Homo sapiens: one gene and its partners. The protein of the gene in region 3 purifies or fractionates together with the protein of the main gene of each other region. This does not show direct contact. Each region holds a gene or a part of one and is shown on either strand. Other genes may lie near its edges.

Region 1 (3,727 bases), on a different chromosome or scaffold from region 3:
GAGCTGTGATAAGGAAGTTAAGCAGATACGCTGGGGGCAAATGTGTCACAGTGCAATGTAGCTAATGAGGAAACAGCATTAGGTATGTCTCCCAAGAAAGTATTAGTTTGTGGACTAACTGTGGGAATCTGATGATGATGGGTAATGGCAACTAACATTTGAGTTACTATACCCCAGGCACTGTGCTAAACACTTTACATGGCATATCCTCACAGCTTTCCCATCTAGCAGGGAATATTAGGTACATTTTAGAGGAGAACATTAAGGTTGACTGAGCCAAAGTAGCACACCCAAGGTGTGATACAGCCTGCGTTCAAACCCAGGTTGTCCCATACTCTAGAGACTGTGATGTTAGGACAAAGTGTGATTTCAGAAGATTTGTAAAGAGAAGAAAGTTGTTAGAATCACTTCTCTAAAGCATGCTGATTTTGAGATTGCTAAAATTAGAAACTGTACCAGAATTTACATGACACTTTGTTTGGTTTTGAATTAAGTCATTATGAGGAAGTACATTAAAAAATGTTAAAAGGTTCTTCCTGGGAATTTGTAATGCATTCTTCAGTTCTAATAAATGTATTCTTATATGCTGGCCCCTCCCTCCTTTTAATGCCTTGAGATGATGAATAAGTGGAAGAATAAACATACTCTCCATAGAGCTTATCAAATGTTTACCTAGGTTCCCTTGGGCAACTGTAGGCAATAAAAACTATGTTGCATTGGCTCTTCACTGTCAGATGGTAATGGCTGATTGTTAACAAGGGTCAAAGTTTAATTGCTTTGGCAAGACCTTTAAACTACACTTTCTTATGTCTTGATATCCTGATTCTGCTGGCATTTTGTTCATTGAACTGTGACATGGAGATAGATATATACCTGAAATACTCAGGCTGTAAATTATCTGACAGCTAAAATCGTTACTGTTGATTTGGTGTAGATAGTTTGGAACAATGCTGTAATAATGTTACTGTGGAAAGGCACAAACCAAAAGCAGAAACAATCATTTCTAAAATCCTGAAATTTGTCTTAATGGAAATAGGGAACTCCTGCTATGGTTAGAATGTTTGTCCTTTATAAAACTCATGTTGAAACTGAATCCCCAATGTGGCCGTATTGAGAGATGGGGCCTTTAAGAGGTGATTGGGTCATGAGGGCTCTACCCTCATGAATGGATTAATCCATTCATGGATTAATGGATTAATGGGTTTTCATGGGAATGGGACTGGTGGCTTTATAAGAAGAGGCAGAGAGACGTGAGCCAGCATACTCAGCCCCCTCACCACGTGTGATGTCCTGGGCCACCTCAGGACTTTGCAGAAGGCCCTGACCAGCTACGGCCCCTTGACCTTGAACTTCTCAGCCTCCATGTATGTAAAAAAATTTCTTAAATTACCCAGTTTCAGGTATTCTGTTCTAAGCAACAGAAAACAGACTAAGACAGTTTCTCACCAAATTCTAGAATATTAAGATTTGTAGCTTGAAAGATAATCTTGGACAAGTGAAAGGATGTACAGCTTGGATCATCTTGGATCTCTGTTTTTATGGAATGATGAGGCTTTAAATATAAGTGTATTCATGCTGGACCCATGAGGATTTATTGAAGAAGGTTAGAAGTGTTTTAGGTAAATGACTAAATTTTAAAGGCTTTTTTTTTTTTTTTTTTTTTTTTTTTTTGAGACGAAGTCTTACTCTGTCGCCCAGGCTGGAGTGCAGTGGTGCGATCTTGGCTGACTGCAGCCTCTGTCTCCCGGGTTCAAGCGATCTTCCTGCCTCAGCCTCCCGAGTAGCTGGGACTACAGGCGTGCGCCACCATGCCCAGCTAATTTTCGTATTTTTTTAACAGAGACAGGGTTTCACCATATTGGCCAGGCTGGTCTCGAACTCCTGACCTCTTGATCCATCTGCCTTGGTCTCCCAAAGTGCTAGGATTACAGGCGTGAGCCACCGCGCCCAGCAAAGGCTATTGTATTAAATAGGCATTAGCCTATTCTGTAAACTGCACCTTTGTACCAAGGTCAGACAGGATTTTTAGTTTGGTAAGTCATTTAATCTGACCAAAGAGGGCTCGTCTAAAACAAGTTTAAATCAGTACTTCCTACCATTAAGTTTTTATTCCGGTAAATTAATTGATTATTTAATCAAGTCCTATGTTATACAAATTACCTTTACTTTTTTTTTAAACCCTATTAGAAAAACTAATTGGCTAATACTTATTTTGCTCATATTTATCTTAGGCATTACAGGGACTGGAACAGAAAGCTTTGTCCATGCTTATAGAATTTATAATCTTAAATATCTATTTAGGTTGTTGTTTTTCATCTGAGAGGTGATAGTATAAAACTGAGACACCTGTAGAGTGGGGGAAGTACCGCAAAAAAGTCAAACGCCTTTTAAATAAATGCCTTTAGAAATAGCTTTGGAACGTGGCACCTTCACTAACCATCATTCATTCATATGAAATACTTCACACATATAAATTGTAGTTGAAAGCCATATGTAACCTTTAAAACTTATCCTGCCTTTAAAAATAAAACTTATCAGCCAGGTGCGGTGGCTCATGCCTGTAATCCCAGCACTTTGGGACGCCAAGGGTGGCAGATCACCCTCCTGACTAACACGGTGAAACCCCGTCTCTACTAAAAATACAAAAAATTAGCCAGATGTGGTGGTGGGCACTTGTAGTCCCAGCTACTCGGGAGGCTGAGGCAGGAGCATGGCGTGAACCCGGGAGGCGGAGCTTGTAGTGAGCGGCGATCGAGCCACTGCACTCCAGCCTGGGCGACAGAGCGAGACTCCATCTCAAAATAAATAAATAAATAAAACTTATCACGCTTATGTCTGTGAATGTATATAATTAAGGAAAATTTGCTTTGTTAAATATAACACTACTATTTGAGCACCTACTTTGTGCTTATATTGTTGATAAATGATGAAAAGACAGTGAAAAATCCCTATTCTTACAGAACTTACTTTCCGGTGAAGCAAGACACACAAAAATAAACAAGAAAAATGATCAGAGTGATGTGTTATGCAGAGAATTAAAGGGTGATGTGATAAAGTGATTGGGTCGTGCTTTATGTTGGCAAAAAAAATCTGGAGTATAAGAAGTTGCTGACTTGGGTGATTTGGAAGAGATTGGGAGACTGGGGGGATTCAGAACTGAAGGAACAGGCTGTAGGCTGTAAGGCAAAAATATACTTGCTATGTTCAAATTACTAAGAGGTTTATACCGTCATGCTTTTGTTTAAAAAATAAAACTTTATAATGAGGTATTTCAAGTGTGGTTCTCCCTTGTCACAAATCTTGTACATACTTTGTGTTTTCCAGCACATCCTACACATTCGAGGTGGTAATATGATACTTTTAAACCGGAACCTGCATCTGATATCCTGGAATTTGTTTCTCTACTTCCTGTATTTCTCCTATCATGAATGACTGCTCTGACAAAGAATATGTCATGGGACACACCTTCAGCTAACTTTGCTTTTTCATGCTTGTTTTCAATTCACTAGAAGAAAATCTAACTTGTCAGGAAGCAAGTACATAATAGGAAGTGTCTGTCTTAGTTTGTCTTCAACAGTTAAGAAAATGAATGTTTCCACTCTTACTACATTCTTAGTCACCTGTCCACTGACCAAGAGCCTTGTGGCCCTGAGTAATCATTTAGAACTTGGAATCAGCAGGGGCGCTCTCTCTAGTTGCAGTTTAGGGAATGGGTTATTAGCTTTCT
Region 2 (3,600 bases), on a different chromosome or scaffold from region 3:
CCGTCTAAATTGTACTTAAAAATAATGGCCTCAAATAATATTAACATATAATCTGTCTATTGGAGATCACTAACGTGTTAATCTACTCTTGCCAGAATAACTGATTATGCGAAACCTGGAATAAAGGTGTTCCTGCCAAGTAGCTTGAGATAATTAAAGCAAGCTGTTTAAACAAACAAAACAGCAAAAAGTGCATCTACTTATCCATATACATCAGAACTTTTTGACACTGTGTAACTAAACCAAAATAAATATACTGAATGCTGTGTTCACCGTTTTTCTGACGGATGAGAACTTTAAAGGTAAATGCTAATACATACGTGAATTTGGAAAACAGTACCTTTTGTATATGTAGGGTCCTGCATTTATTACAGAGTTCAACCAATAGAAAAGGCCGGAAAACCACAGCTGCCAGTGGTTTTGAATTATTTTCCCCCTTTTAAAGGCCTAACTTGATATTGAGTCTTCACACAGATGGCTGATTTGAAAAATATTAAGTAAAGCAAACAACTATTACAAAGTAGGCCTTCTCATATTATGCCATTTTCTACTACAGAAAACAAATGATAAGTATGTTTCAGCCATAATAATTTTTAGACACAAATTTGTATACCTGAGAGGTATTTGTTTACAATGTTAGGTCTTCAGACTGAACAGATGGGAGCGGCATTCCTCATCAAAGGAAGACCTTAAAAATCCTCCGCCAAAATCCTGCCTTTTGCCATATGATGCAACCATAGGCTACACCTGCTTCACCAATTTGTGTACCCAATAGTCATTCTCATGGCAACACAGCCACCCAGTTTCTTGGAAGCAGCTATGGTGAAACTGAAAAATGTGCCAGGGTGAATTCTAGAGGACATGGAATGCAAGCTTACTAAATAAATATGCAAATTTCAAAATAACAACTCAGAAGGAAAACTCACTTCTAAAACATTCTTGACCATATGAAACAAAAACAGACACAGGCGCTACCACAAGCTGGAACTCACGACTTCACTATCTTTTCCTGCCCGGATGCCCTCTCCTGTGTGATGAAGAATTATGCTCGTGGGCAGTGAAGAACACTGCTGACACTTACATAATATCAGAGCAGAAAGTAAATACAGGAAGGGCCAGCTTACAGCCTCATCACGTGGTGGCCAGGGCAGGCGGTGCTAAGGGTGATGTTGACAGATGTGTCAACCAAAACAAAGCAAGGAAGTCTTGCTAATAATGGAGAGGCTGCCGTCCTAAAACCAGACTGAAGGCGACTCCTGCCTGCTTCCCTTCTCAGTCGCTCTTGGTCAGAAAGTGCACGGGGCTCCACCCCGGGACTCGGCAATGGCTGCTCGGTCCAGTGCGACAGGGAGGGGCACGGCGGAAGGTGGCCAGGGAGGAGAAGAGCCACGTCCTGCTTCTGGGTGTGGGGCCTTCCGTCCACAGTGTCTGGGCGGTCCCCAGGTTTCTCAAGCCACGGCCCCGGGTGGCACCTGCCCGCTCCTCTCCCTGCAGAGAGGCTGCGTTCAGAAACCTCATTTTGCAGCACGGATGTTTTCTTACTTCTAGCCATTGGATGCAAGCCCAATTAGGAACACCGAGTTGCCTGGCCGCTGGGGGAGAAACAGGCTTGGAGGGTGAAATGACTCGCCCAAGGTCAGGCTGCTGATTACTGACGGCTACTGGGCAACAGAGGGGCGCCCGCGTCGGCGGGGCAGGGAAGGGGAGACCACAGCCCTGGGGGAGGTGACCGGCCGAGCGATCGCAGCCGTCAGCGGGAGGAGGCCACAGGACAGGGCAGCCGGACGTGGCATCCCCAGCAGAGGGCGGGGGGCCACAGCCTAGGGGCGGGAAGTCGGGGCCGCTCTCACCGGACGCTCGGGGTAGACGCGGCTCAGGTGGGCCTTGAGGTGGCCCACACTCCAGCCGCGGTCGCCACTCAGCTCCAAGTCGCGGTGGCGCTGGTTGGGGCTCTTCACCAGGAGCGTGACGGGCTCGGGTTCGGTCTCGGACTCCATGGCGGCGGCGGCGGTGTCGGGGCTCCGCTGCGCTCCTAGGTGCCAGGCAGGCGGCGTCTCAGCCGCCCGCAATCTCTGCAACGACAGTTCACGTCTCTGGGGCGCGCGCCCCCGCTTCGGGCGCCTTTTATAGAAGCCCCGCGCCCGGCTCTGCGGACAGAACGCTCTGTGGCTGCCGCCCATTGGCTGAGGCGGAGGCACTCTCCCAACGTGGCCCAATCGGCGTCCGGATCCGGGTGGCAGAGGGCGGACCGAGCACGTGGGCACGGGCTGATGCAACCCGCCGCGTCTGCGTCACCCAGAGGCGCGGCTGTGCCCCGGGAACCCGGGTTCGGTGGCCATGTTTGGGTGCGCTGCAGGCCGCGCGGGGAGCTTGGTCTGAGACCTGCGAGGCCCCCAGCTCGGGTGGCTGAGGGCGCCCGAGGCAGGGGGTGGGGAGTGGGGTATCCTAGCAGACCCCAGTTTAGCAGTCTCTGCAAATTCTTTCCTCACAAAGCCGCACCCCCACCCTTTTTCACCCCAGGTGTCAGTGCCCACTTCCCCTTTTCCTGCCTCTGTGGCCCCACGTGGAAACCTACGGGGAAGCCCGTCCTACAGGGGAAGCCTACCCACTCGAACCCTCAAAGAACGGCTGGGCGACCCCGAGTGCAAGCCCACCTAGGAGAACTCCACGTGCTCCTAAGAAAGACAACGAAGGAGCAAGGCCAGATTTTCCTTGGGCTGGGAGGATGGAGGCATCCAGGCAGCTGTTGCCAATTTCCCTGGGCCTCAGACTTGAACGTTTGGGACATCACCCTAATGATGATTGACAAGTCAGCCACAGTCCTGCTCACACTGGAGTCCCCCTCAAAACGCGTCACTTTATAAGATACTCACACATGCACCCGTTAAATTGGGGCTGAGACGAGGAGGGCGGGGTTCTCCGATTCCTGAAGTGGGACCATAAAGGCCTCTTTATTGTAGGCGTTCCCTCCTCCTCCTCTGTAGGAAAAAAAAAAAAAAAAAAAAAGGCTTGAAAAACAAAACTGACATTGCCCCGGCTCCCTCCTTGTTCCAACCCCCTTGGGACATCTGTTTTTTCAGGTGTTGTCAGGAGCTTGTCAAGGTCAGGAAGGTAACAGGAGGAGCCTGGTCTGGTTGGTGGGTATATTCATCTGCTGCAGCTGCCATAACAAAGTGCCACAAACTGGATGGCTTAAGACGGGGTCCCCAACCCCCCTGGGCCACGGACCACTATGAGTCCCTGGCCTATTAGGAACCAGGCGGCACCGCAGGAGGTGAGCCACCAGCGAAGCTTCATCTGTATTTACAGCTGCTCCCTATCGCTGCATTACCACCTGAGCTCAGCCTCCTGTTAGATCAGGGGGCATTAGATCCTCACAGGAGCCGAACCCTATTGTGAACTGTGCACGCAAGGGAACTAGGCTGTGCTCCTTACGAGAATCGAATGCCTGATGATGGGAGGTGGAGCTGAGTTGCTGATGCTAGTGCTGAGAGTGGCTGCAAATACGGATTAACATTAGCAGAGAGGTTTCACTGCACAGAGGCCATCATAAATCAATTGCTTGCAGACTCATATCAAAACACTATCAGTGAGTGGCAA
Region 3 (3,727 bases):
TTTTAATGTAATTTTTTTCTTTTGCACTCATGCTGTTGATTGCTAAATGTAATAGTCTGATCATGAGACTGAATAAATGTGTCCTTTTAAAAAACGTGCTGTGTAAAGTTAGTCTCCTCGGAAGCCATCTTGGTAAACTCCCCCAAGAGTGTGAAGTCAGAATTCCTTCAGGGTGATGCCAGGTTCTACTTGGAACTTATTTACACTCTGCTCGGGTGGAGAAGCCACTGTCTTCAGTGAGCTCGGTGTAGCTGAACTGACAGTTACTGTTGTGACCTGAAGTTCACCACCAAAGGGGATCACCCAAGCAAAGTCACAGAATTATTAGTTATAAAAATGATTGTTGGCACATCCCATGCAATATATCTAAACTGAATAATGGTACCAGATAACATTATAGATGGGAATGAAGCTTGTGTATCATCCATAATTGTATGTAGCTAATAAACTATTTAATTCTCTTAAAAAAACACTGTAGACTGGGTAGCTTATAAACAACAGACACTTATTTCTCTCAGTTCTAGAGACTGGAAGTCCATGATCAAGGCGCCAGCAGATTCGGCGTCTGGTGAGGCATCTCTGGTTCACAGATGACACCTTCTGAGTCCTCACACGATGGAAAGGGCAATGGATCCTTCTTTTCCTCAACTTCCCAGGCTCAAGCAATCCTCCCACCGCAGCCTCCCATGTAGCTGGGACCACAGGCACACACCATCACGCTCAACTAATTTTTTAATTTTTTGTAGAAGCGGGGTCTCGCCATGTTGCCCAGACTGGTCTTGAACTCCTGGGCCCAAGCAATCCTCCTGCCTCAGGCTTCCAAAGTGCTGGGATTATAGGCATGAGCCACTGCATGTGGCCTGGGGCCTCTTTTTTAATAGGGCATGAAACCCATTCCTAATCACATCCCAAAGGCACCTCCTCCTCATACCATCACATTGGGGATTAAGTTTCAACATAGGAATTCTGGGGGGGACACAGACATTCAGACCACAGCACTGTGAGTGATTTTGGGGCTGGCCACAGGCAATTACACAGGCTCTAGCAGGCAGGCCTCCCGGGGAAAGCTCCCTCTGCACACCAGACTTGGAGCACAGCCCAGGCAGTGTAGCCCCTGGGGAGGTGCAGTCAAGGTCCCAGGCCCTTCGGCCCACCACACTTTTTCATGTAGTTCCCTTCCTAGCCCAGTGCCTTATTTCCCAGGAATCCTTATCTGAGGCTGTAGGAGTAGACGGGACCCCCAGCTGGCACACGCCTGGCACAGTGGTTGGGAAGCTCACCTTGACCATTCTAGCTTCAGCCCTCCCCTGGCTGAAACCCTGCAGACACAAGTCACTTCCGTGTCCTTAATTCCAAGGAACATTTTTGAAGCATCAGTATCCTTTCCAACTCAACAGCACAGGACACTTTGGCACTCCCTCCTGCTTACAATGTTCTCTTCAACTCCCATGTCCCACCGGCTCTCCTGACTGTCCTCCCGCCTCGCCAGCTGCTCCTGCTTGGGGTCTCCTCTGCCGCCTTAGCTCCTTCTACCTGGAAAGACAGCTTCCTCCTTGTGTTTCTCTACACTCCCCCTAACCACCTCACCCACACCTACCATGGGAACAGTGAGGGAAATAGATAAGGTAGGTATACTTACAATCTTCTAAGTGGGAAAGGCAGAGAGAGCTTAAATTGTTTATTAGGCATTTTTCTCTTATTACCATCTTCCACGCGGTGATCTTTGAAGTGAAACATGATAAATTAATGCCATTTGTAAATATGAAATAACTCAGTCAACAAGCAAATGACTTGTCTCAACCTGTGTGCTATGGTCTGAGTGTTTGCTGAAATCCTCGACCCCATGGTGATGGTACTGGAAGATGGCCCTTCAGGAGATGATCAGGTCATGGGGATGGAGTCCTCATGAATGGGATCCACGCCCTAATAAGACGAGAAAGAGACTAAAGCTCTCTGCTCTCTGCCATGTCAAGATATAACCAGAGGCAACAGTGTGACACCAGGAAGGGGGAGGCCTCACCAAGAACCCATGAGTGCACCTTGATCTCTGACTTCCGGCCTCAAAACCCGTAAGAAATAAATTTCTGTTGTTTATAAATCACAAAGTCTAAGGTATTTTATTACAGCAGGCTGAATGGACTAAGACATCTCGCAAATTGTCAGCAGGGGTTAGTAGGACTCCCACAAGAGAACTCTGTAGAATGTTCCGGCATTATGTTCTTGTCATCTAACTCCCAACAATTACCTTATGCCAATGCCCTCAGCTCTCCTTGGTAGTTACCCAAATCCAAACAACTCACTCATCTGTTTGTTCAACAAGTAGTTATGAACAGCTATTAGACACCAGGTACTTGGTAGGTTCTACATACACAGAAAGGAATAAGACAGCACCTAGCGTACTTACATTCAGATGGGGGAAAATGGGCAATAAACTAATGAGGCAGGTTCTACTAAGGACATAAATAGGGGCAGAGTAACTGGGTCAGGAAGAGCCTCTCTAAAGAGGTGACCAAGTGAAGACATCAGGAAGTGACCAATCCAACTCTGAAAAGAGCCAGGAAGGGGCATTCCTGAAAAAAGAAATGCAACTGCCAGGTCTCCCAGGCAGAAGAAAATGGCTCCAACTGAGGAGGAGAAAGAGGGCAGGGCAAGGCAAGCACTGGGGAGAGGGTGGGGAGGCGGGCCGACAAGCAGTGCAGGGCTGAGAGGCCAAGGGAGGGATCTGGATTTTACTCAAGTGCTGCAGGAAGTCAATGAAGGATGTGATCAGGGGAGGAATATGATCAACTCTCTTAAGATCTGGCTCAATATCTCTCCCTCCTTGACTTCTTCCCAGGCATCTCGAAGGAGAGGTCCCAGAACTCTGGCTACCGTGCCTCTCCCCGGGGCTCAAAGCGCCTGCATAGGAGGATGATGCAGCCTGGATGTCAGGATGCTCCCCTATGACCTTCACTGCCTCGCCCAACTCCTCAACTGGCCTAGAACCATCCCTGTCAAGACCCAATTCCAATGTGCCCGCCATCCTGGTTACGTCTTGCTGCACAAGACGTGCAACACTCTCAGGTCATCCCTCACCCCATTCAGGTCTGTGCGCCTTTAATCCCATCTCATCTCCTACCCATCTCCAAAAACCAACAGCAAACCTCCCTATGTCCTCACCCTCTTCTCTGATGATCCTCTCACCTTCCGGCTAGGTTTGAAATTTAGTCTCCAGGACCAGGGCTCTCCCCTGTGAATCCTGTACCACTTGGACAGGCAGTGAGCTAGGTGTCTGCCCTCCTCACTGCCACTTCCTGCCCCTTCCTCCTCCCTAGAGAAACCTGCTTTCCAAGTCACTCCTCAATAGCCCCCTAGCAACAATTCCCTCTTGCCTGCACCATAATTTTCCCCTTTCCTGGACCATTCCCAATGCACAGAAACATCCAGTATTTTCCTTGGGAAAATGACATGTTCCCCGACCCCACTGCATCCTTCAACTACCACCCACTTCTTTGCTCCACAGGAAAAATCACTGAGATGGCCATACCATCTCCATCTTCTTTCTATTCTCCCCTGACTTCAATCAGGCCTCTGACCCCATCCAGCCACCAAGACTGCTCTCGTGGAAGTGACAACTGATAACCTCCACGGGTAATCTGCTCTTAACTTCTGAGACCCATCAACAGTACTGGGTCCCATCCCCTTCCTAAAGCACTCTCTTCCCTCACTTTCTGGGGCATCCTTCTCT

What was found.
Region 1: the proteins of SFT2D1 (region 3) and TSPAN3 purify together in Homo sapiens (affinity purification with mass spectrometry; one large-scale study listed by BioGRID and IntAct). This does not show direct contact.
Region 2: the proteins of SFT2D1 (region 3) and HERPUD1 purify together in Homo sapiens (affinity purification with mass spectrometry; one large-scale study listed by BioGRID and IntAct). This does not show direct contact.

The regions. Positions count from the first base shown.
Region 1 is NC_000015.10:77,064,516-77,068,242, reverse strand, and holds part of TSPAN3 (tetraspanin-3), read left to right. Parts: intron 1-3,727. UniProt on the Homo sapiens protein: Regulates the proliferation and migration of oligodendrocytes, a process essential for normal myelination and repair.
Region 2 is NC_000016.10:56,930,642-56,934,241, reverse strand, and holds the start of HERPUD1 (homocysteine-responsive endoplasmic reticulum-resident ubiquitin-like domain member 1 protein), read right to left. Parts: upstream 2,101-3,600; 5' UTR 1,998-2,100; coding exon 1,851-1,997; exon of another isoform or gene 948-1,850; coding exon of another isoform or gene 927-947; intron 1-926. UniProt on the Homo sapiens protein: Component of the endoplasmic reticulum quality control (ERQC) system also called ER-associated degradation (ERAD) involved in ubiquitin-dependent degradation of misfolded endoplasmic reticulum proteins.
Region 3 is NC_000006.12:166,336,009-166,339,735, forward strand, and holds part of SFT2D1 (vesicle transport protein SFT2A), read right to left. Parts: intron 1-3,727. UniProt on the Homo sapiens protein: May be involved in fusion of retrograde transport vesicles derived from an endocytic compartment with the Golgi complex.